Linked DNA regions of Homo sapiens: region 1 is linked to region 2. Evidence: fine-mapped QTL for protein levels in blood plasma. A gene starts in region 2. The other region holds a variant in brackets. All regions are shown on one strand. Distances are from middle to middle.

Evidence for each region. PIP is the chance, under the fine-mapping model, that this variant and not a neighbour inherited with it causes the effect. The UK Biobank Pharma Proteomics Project read protein levels with antibody pairs (Olink). The fine-mapping took linkage between variants from a reference panel, not from the people measured, so its PIPs are less certain.
Region 1: its variant is fine-mapped to the plasma level of the GPD1 protein (UK Biobank, PIP above 0.99).

The regions. Positions count from the first base shown.
Region 1 is chr12:50,804,415-50,808,799 of GRCh38, reverse strand. The region is part of intron 3 of ATF1 (activating transcription factor 1); the gene reads right to left. Among named protein-coding and RNA genes, the nearest start is that of TMPRSS12, 36 kb to the left of the region's middle. The variant A/G (reference allele first, on the strand shown) is at 2,404.
Region 2 is chr12:50,101,834-50,106,194 of GRCh38, reverse strand. GPD1 (glycerol-3-phosphate dehydrogenase 1) reads right to left here and starts at 2,187. Exons shown (of 8, transcript NM_005276.4): 1 at 2,104-2,187; 2 at 1,444-1,621; 3 at 507-647. The coding sequence starts at 2,144. RefSeq lists an enhancer at 3,128-3,177.

The DNA.
Region 1 (4,385 bases), 700 kb before region 2:
CCACTGCACTCCAGCCTGGGCGACAGAGTGAGAGTCTGCCTCAAAAAAAAAAAAAATTACAATAATCTACCAGACACTTAAACTATTACACCAAAGAATGCTTTTATTTAGCATATATTATTATAATGATGTGCTCCAGGCTGATTACATATTAGTTTAAAGAGTAAAGAGGGCTGGGCATGTGGCTCCCATCTGTAATCCCAACACTTTGGGAGGCTGAGGTGGGCGAATGACTTGAGGTCAGGAGTTTGGAGACCAGCCTGGCCAACATGGTGATACCCAATCCCTGCTAAAAATACAATAATTAGCTGGACATGGTGGTGCGAGCCTGTAATCCCAGCTACTCGGGGGGCTGAGGTAGAAGAATTGCTTGAACCTGGGAGGCGGAGGTTGCAGTGAGCCAAGATGGTGCCACTGTACCCCCAGCCTGGGCGACAGAGTGAGATTCCATCTCAAAAGAAACAAAAACAAACAAAAAAAAACAATAAAACAGTTCTCCAAACGAAGTAGGTAAGAAAAACTATAAAATGCACAGCGTATCAATGATGAATAAAATTGCTTATTTTAACAAAAAGAGGTAAATATGATCCCATGGGTATCCCTCAGACTTGGTGAAATGGCACTAATGACAGGAATAAGGGATGGAAAAAGTATTCCTTGCTGAAAAGAAAGGTCTTTCAAGACAATTGGGGATGGGCACAGTGGCTGACGCCTATAATCCCAGCACTGTGGGAGGCCAAGGCAGGCGGATCACCTGAGGTCCGGAGTTCAAGACCAGCCTGGCCAACTTGGCAAAACCCCATCTCTACTAAAAATGCAAAAATTAGCTGGGCATGGTGGCTCACGCCTGTAATTCCAGCTACTTGGGAGGCTGAGGCAGGAGAATTGCTTGAACCCGGGAGGTGGAGGCTCCAATGAGTGGAATTCATGCCACTGCACTCCAGCCTGGGCGACAGAGTGAGACTCTCTCAAAAAAAAAAAAAAAACAAAAAAAAAACACACACACAATTGGGGGTAGAGGAAAGAGTAGGCAATATGCATTGTTTGCTTCTGAAAAAAGAAAAAAGAAATGCTTAAGAATTCTATGTTCACTGTAGAAAAATGAGAAAACTGAAATACTTACGTGAAAACAACAACAAAAAATAATCCACAAAGGAAAAAGAAAGCCCTTAGAATGAAAATGGCTATTTTATTTTATCTATGCCAACTTCCCAGCCCATGGAGAAATTCTCTAACATTCCTGAAAACCTCTACTTCCAGGAAAAAGGCACCCACTATTTCCAAAAAGTAAACCATTCTATTATTGAATAGTTAGAGCCTTTCCTTCTTTGGGTCCAAAACTGGTTCCATCCAGTGAAACTAAAGAAATTTATTTATTATTTTTTTCTTTTCTTTTGAGACAGAGCCTCACTCTGTTGCCCAGGCTGGAGTACAGTGGCATGATCATGGCTCACCCCACCGTGACTTCTCAGGCTCAAGCGATCCTCCTGCCTCAGCCTCCCAAGCAGCTGGGAATATAGGTACACGCCATCATACCTGGCTAATTTTTTATTTTTTTAGTAGAGATGGGGCCTATGTTGCCCAGGCTGTTCTTGAACTCCTGGGCTCAAGTGATTCTCCCACCTAGGCCTCCTTAAGTGTTGGGACTACAGGCATGAGTCACAGCAAGAAATTTAAGCCTAATCCCAATTCTATATCCATGCCCTACTTTGCGATATTTGATAATTGCTACATGTCTTCCTTATTCTAGGCCAAATACTTTCAGTTTTTTCACGTGTTCTTCTATAACATGTTGAAGATCCTTCTCCAGTTTGTCTCCTTTCTGTGGACTGTCGTCCCACCAAGAGCTAATACAACTGTAGACTATATTAAGAGAAGTTCCACAGGAAGCACAATGGAGGTGTCAGTCCTATAGGACTCTGTTTTAGGCATTTCTGTAGAATAGTCAGAGTGCTTCCTAAACCTGCCTATGTAACAGAATCATTCTGGAGAGGTTTGTTGAATCTAGATTCCCATCTGGTGGCCATAATCATTGAGTAAGTAGGTCTAGAGTAGAGCTCCAGATCCATTTAACAAACTGCCTGCATGGTCTTTTTTTTTTTTTCACAAGTACACCTCTGTCCAATGCCTGCATGGTCCTACAGCCAGTCTATCATGAGACTGTGGAATGCTGCACCCATTTATTTTTCCATTTTAAATTATGAAACACTTTGAGTATAAAGAAAAGTACAGGGGAAGATGCTGCATCTGGCGTTGCCGTGGCTGTGCCTTGGCCTGTGCAGCCTCCTGGTGGGGCAGGCAGAGGCCCTGAGCCCCATGGATCTGCTGGAGCAAAGCCCGCCCTGTGTGGTGCTGTGCAGGCAGAACCTGGTGTTGATGGGAACCATTGTCAGCATCCTGCTG[A/G]TAACTGTCATCCTTATGGCATTTTGTGTCTACAAGCCCATCTGGTGTCAATGACAGCCAAGTAAACAAGTTCTTCAATGAGTACTTGGGAACAGGATAAGTTGTGCTGCGTATGGGCCAATGGAGAGGTTGAAATCAGAACTTTCCTAGCTGAAAATGACCTTTGGTCTGGACAGTTGGTAAATGCTAAATGATTTAGGAAAAAACATCTACTAGCAATTATTTTTTTCTTTTTTTTTTTTTTCTTTGAGACAGTTTCGCTTTTGTTGCCCAAGCTGGAGTCAGTGGTGCAATCTCGGCTCAATGCAACCTCTGCCTCCCAGGTTCGAGCAATTCTCCTGCCTCAGCCTCCTGAGTAGCTGGGATTACAGGCGTGCGCCACCACACCCGGCTAATTTTTGTATTGTTAGTGGAGACGGGGTTTCACCATGTTGGCCAGGCTGGTGTTGAACTCCCGACCTCAGGTGATCTGCCCACCTGGGCCTCCCAAAGTGCTGGGATTACAGATGTGAGCCACTGTGCCTGGCTTTATTTTTTTTCTCAACACTGTAATGCAAATAATTGGCCACCAAGTCTGCTTCTCAGTCTTTCTTTTGATATCTGACTTAAGAGCAAGACCTGAAAACTCCAAATTCAGTGTAAAGATGGGAGTGTTCATAAGGAAGGAAAACATGGTAACCCTGCAAATGTCTGTAAGAACCACACTGGAAAGAACTAATTATTCATGCTTGAAAATATTAATAAGGAGACTTACTACATAGACATTCCCTACCTAAGAACCATTTGGTCACAATGGGTTAAGAATCACAAAAGGTTTTTTTTTTTTTTTTTTTTTGAGACAGACAGGGTCTCACTCTGTCACCTAGGCTGGAGTAAAGTGGCACAATCACGGCTCACTGCAGCCTTGATCTCCCAGGCTCAAGTGATCCTCCCACCTCAGCCTCCCGAGTGGCTGGGACTACAGGCATGCACTACCACACTCAGCTAATTTTTTGTATTTTTTTGTAGTGACAAGGTATCCCTATGTTGCCCAGGCTGGTCTCAAACTCTTGGGCTCAAGCAATCTGGCCACCTCGGCCTCCCACAGTGCTGGGATTACAGGCATGAGCCACCGTGCCTAGCCTTCCTGTACCTATTATTCTACTCTAATTCCAGTATGATCACAGAGCATACTGTGCATGATTTCAGTTCTTTTAAATTTGTTAAGATTTGTTATGACCCAGAATGTGGTACTTTTTGGCAGATTTTCTTCATTCTACAGCTGCTGGGTCAAGTGTTATAAAAATGTCAATTAGGCCAAGCTCATGCCTGTAATCCCAGCACTTTGGGAGACCGAGGTAGGCAGATCACAAGAACAGGAGCTCGAAACCAGCCTGGACAATATAGTGAAACCCTGTCTCTACTAAAAATACAAAAAAAGTTAGCTGGGCGTGGTGGTGGGCGCCTGTAGTCCCCACTACTTGAGGCTGAGGCAGGAGAATTGCTTGAACCTGGAAGGCGGAGGTTGCAGTAAGCCAAGATCGCGCCACTGCACTCCAGCCTGGGTGACAGCGTGAGACTCCGTCTCGGGAAAAAAAAAAAAAAAAGATCTTGTTGGCTTCTGATATCATCTGGCATTAGGTTCTTCTATAATCTTTCTGATTTTCTGACTGTAAGTTCTAATGTATCCTGAGACAGGTTTACTGAAATCATCAACTGCAACTGTGGACCTGTTTATTTCTCTTTTCAGTTCTGTTAGTTTCTTTTTAGAGATAGGGTCTTGCTGTCACCCACACTAGAGTGTAGTGGCTCAATCATAGCTCACTGCAGCCTCCAACTCCTGGGCAGCTGGGACCAGAGGCACACATCACCACGCCTGGCTAACTTTAATTTTGTGAAGAGACAGGGTCTCACTATGTTGCCCTGGCTGGTCTTGAACTCCTGGGCTCATACAATCCTCCCTCCTTGGCCTCTGGAAGGGCTGAGATCACAGGTGTGAGCCA
Region 2 (4,361 bases):
CTGTGTCCCTCCCGACAGGTCCTGCCCCATTCCAACCCAGCTCAAGTTTGCTGTGAGGAGGCCAGACAGCATGTGACCAACTGTCCTGCCACATACCCTCAACCAGTCTACTTCTCCAAGGCAACGGGTCCCCTCCACATCCCTAGGCAACCCCGCCTGACTGCCCCAACAAACTGCCATTCAGTGACCAGTCACTGCTCCAAACCAGCTACTCTTCACACTTCTCAAACCAGCCCGCTTCTCATATCTCCCAGGCATTCCTTTATACCTCCGAAACTCCCCGAGAGGACCTCCAAACCAATCTCGTCTCCTCCCTTCAGCCTCCCTTCCAGTGACCCCCAGCACCTCACTGCTTTCCTAAGCCTCTCCAGAGCCAACTGCCTCTCTTTTCTCCAGCAAACTCTTGGCCTGCGTCTGCCATTTTCTGTTCTCCTTGCTTCACCCACCCTGAACCCCACAACAGTGAGCCGCACCCTCCCCCATCCACATGAAGGTGTCCCTGGCACCTTAATAAGAGATATGCCAGTGGCGTTTGCCTTCAGATGGCCCTTGAGCTGGTCACAGATCTTGCCGATGAACTGATGGGGCACCACAAAGATCAGGATGTCAGCATCCTCTGCAGCCTGGACCACATCTGGGACAGCCACCTGTGGGGGTGACCAAGTGCTCGCGGGCCTGGCAGACCTCCCCTAGCCCCTGTGGAACCCTATTCAGGAGATCTGGGAGCCAAAGAGTGAGGCTGGTAGGGGAGCAGGAAGGCTTGTTTGGGACTGAATCTAGAAGGACTGAACTTGGAGGAATAAGACACTCTACTCCCTCCCCCCAGCTACCACTCTGTCTCCCTCCAGCTGTCCTGGGCTCTTGAGGACTCCTGGAAACCTCATCCCAGCACTCTCCTATCCCTTGGCTGTGGGACAGTGCGGGAGGCCAAAAGCAGCCTGGGCTTGGCAAAAGAAAGAGCTCAAATAAGATTTCATCACCCAGCTCCTCAGGAACCCCAGCTGGGAAGGGGGAGCCCCAGCCTTTCTGCTCTCTTCCCTGCTTCCCCTTTCCAGGTGGGGAGAGCCACGTGGATTTGACCAAAGACCGTAAGTCCAAGGAGCAGCCTCCAAGTCGGCTACTCACTCAGTGAATGAGTAACAGGATTAGTGCCGGAGGCAGGCACTACTGGACCCCAAGTCTGGGAGCCCAGTCTTTGGCTGCCATGGAGACCAACTTGTTCTCCCATCCCTTCCCCACCCACCCGCCTGGGAGCCTGTGAGGGGAAAGCATAGGTTCTCCTCAGTCCTCAGGAAAGGGCCCAGAGCAGCCCTCCTGAGACCTTCCCAAGTCCTGCTGCACCTGAAGCGGCCCTCTCAGCAGGAGGCACCTGTTGAGTAAGGTCGGCTCCAACTCCTGGCCCTCCCTTCCTCTCCCTGTTCTTCGCAGGGTGTTGGGGCTCACCACATTTGGGGGCAACTTGTGCCCTGGCAGGTATTTGACATTCTCATGCTGCGTGTTGATGATCTCAGTCAGCTTTTTGCCTCCAATGTCTTCCTCAAATACCCACATGGTCACCCGTGGGTCAAACTGTGCCAGCTGGGCTGCATTGCCACCCACGATCTTGGCGATGGCTGAGCCCCTGGTGGGAGGGGGAGCACAGGAAAGTACAGGAGGAGGGAACAGTGGCAGGAGTTGGGGCAGCGCCCCACCTCAGGATCTCACAGCAGCCCCCCAGGCTGTTCACTCCTACCTACCTTCCTTATCACCTCCACTCCCATGACAAATAGTCCCCAGTGACCTGGCAGTAGAAAGGAGACTCAGTCTCCTCACCCTTTGCTACTAGAGAAGGGAGCCCCACTTCTCATCTTCCCACCCCCAAACTCAAGCGGCTCTTCACATAGAGAGCTCTGGAGACGCCTTCCCATGGTGAACAGGTGCAGCTGCCCAGGAGGGCGGGGGTCAGGAGAGGGCCGGGCACCGTCTGTCCTGTGCTGCTATGATAGAAGATAGCAGCAGGGGCTGAACAGGAACCTGAGGGCCTTTCCCACCCATTCTGCCTCCTACCCACCTCTGTCTTGGGGGGCCTACCCTTCCCCCATATCACTTGACAGAGCTGCTTACCAGTTCCCGGAGCCTACAATGCAGACTTTCTTGCTAGCCATGGTGCCGCGTCTCTGCCTGAGCCGGCTCAGTGCCACACTCCCTAGCTCCTCTGCCGGCTAGGAGCATTTAACTCCACCACACGTGGGTGCAGCCAAGCCCCGCCCTCCAGGGGTGGGTGGGGAGGCTGGCGCCCAGGGAGATAGAGAGTCTGGCAGAGCCAGGGAAAGGAGAGACAGGGGTACAGACAGGTGTGGAACAGGAATGGGGCAGAGACTAGGCCCAGCTTTTTCTCCTGGGCTCATCGGCTGACAGTGCTGGCAAGCTTCTTCCCTTGGCCCCAGCCCAGCTTCCCACCATGGTCTCATTTTGAGGTCTGCTAAGAAAATAGCCCAGATAAGGAGCAGGTGACTGCTCTCCCTTGCTCCTTTCTGTCCCCCAGCATGAAATAAATTGTATTTAGCTTCAGTAGCAGCTAGGGGAATGCTTTTCAGAGGTAGGCTCCTCCATGACCCCCTATCCCCCCGCCAACCCTGCCACATATCCTCACAGGACCCTGTTCCACAGTTCTGTCCTCCAGCAGGCCCACGCTAGCTCCACTGCAGGGCTGGGGTGGGGGATGTGGGCCCACTTCCCACCTCTAAAGATGAGGCCACATAAGAGGTAAGGGCCTGCTTTGAGGACAGCCCAGCTCAAAAAAGGATGAGAGACTCCAGGTGCCTCAAAAGACAAGATTGTCTTGGTCACCCACAGAGGTCATCTTGGGGACTCATCCATGGGCCTCTCAGATGATCCCCACCCAAAAATGTGTTCTAGGGAAGGTGGGAAAGGTTAAAGTTAGAGAGCTCTGAGAATTGCGGTACACAATTTTGTTGTAGACTCTGGGCTTAAGAGGACAGGAGAGAATAGGAGGCAGGCAGAGTGCACACTGTCCTTGAAAGGCTTTGAGCCTCCTTCAACTCCTCCTCTCAGGGGTTTCCAAGGTACTGCCCCAGGGGCTTCATCAGGTGAATGGCTAGTTTGCAGAGGCCAGAAAAGGGGAAGGCAGGCAGTACCCGGGGCAGCTGTGTCCGTGGGGCTTTGTGGTCTCAGATGCTGTGATTGGGGGTAAGTTTGGTGTATGTTTTTTGGGGAAGGGCGAGAATGGAAGGAGCACCCTCAGCAGTTCAGGGCTCTGCATCGCCCACGGCCATCTGTTTGTCTAAGACGAGGGAAGCTCTGGTTTCCAGGCTGATCTGGAGAGTGGAGCAAGAGGCTCCTAACACTGTGCACCTTGGCCTAGAGGGCAGACACCACTGTGTGCTCATGTGCTGACCTCCTGGCTTGGCAGACGGCTAGGTGGGTGTTGCCATCCCCCTGGGCTGTTGCTGGCCAGCAACTGGTAACAAGCACTGGGCTACAGGGGAGTCTGTGTGCAACCCATGGGTAGGAGTAAGCAGGCAGGAGGTCAAGACTGGGGAGAAATGGCTTTCTAAGTTCCGGGGACTGCCCAGGAAAAACCAACCATATTCTCCTTCCATGGCCAGTAATTTCCCATAGGGAAACGGACATGAAATCAGTAGTTGGCTGTTTTTCTTAGCACAATGTTATACCTAATACAGAAACAGCCTCCCACAGACCACTCCTTTATTGCACTGGCACTGAGATGAAGGCTCCAGTGCCAGGCTGCCAGCTGGGAGCACTGATTACGGGTGATGGAAGAGAAAGGATGCTTCTGTCCCTGGCACAAATGATGGGAGCCCCAAAGAATGGATGTTTATGCATAAAATAACCCCCTTGTTTTTGCCTAAATGCTTCCCTCTCTCATTTTGCCCCTACAATCATTTTAGATAGTGTGGAGACTAAGAATGTGCTCATTTACATGGGAATAAAGAGGGTGCAGAGATTCAGAATCGGCTCATCACAGGAAGTTATCTGTATCACTAGAGCTCTTTTCCCAAGAGCAAACTGTAGATTTGCTTGAAATTAATAATGGTTCATCAGCCATTCATTACACATGTAATTAGCCTGGGTAAAAACAGATGCCATTTCAATGTCCTTGACATCAATTTTCTCCACTCCTAGTTATCGGCCCAACCACTCCTCTCTGCTTTCCCTTCTCAAGTCTGATAAACCCCAAGTTCCGGAGTAGGAACAGTGGTTGGATTTTTTGGTGGGTTTGATTACATATATTGAACAGGCAATACTAGAATGTTCCCATCCAAACAGGCAAAGGATAATTTTTAAACTACAACTTTGGAAAGTGGTTGTACTCTGATCCTATATTCCAAACCCCATTC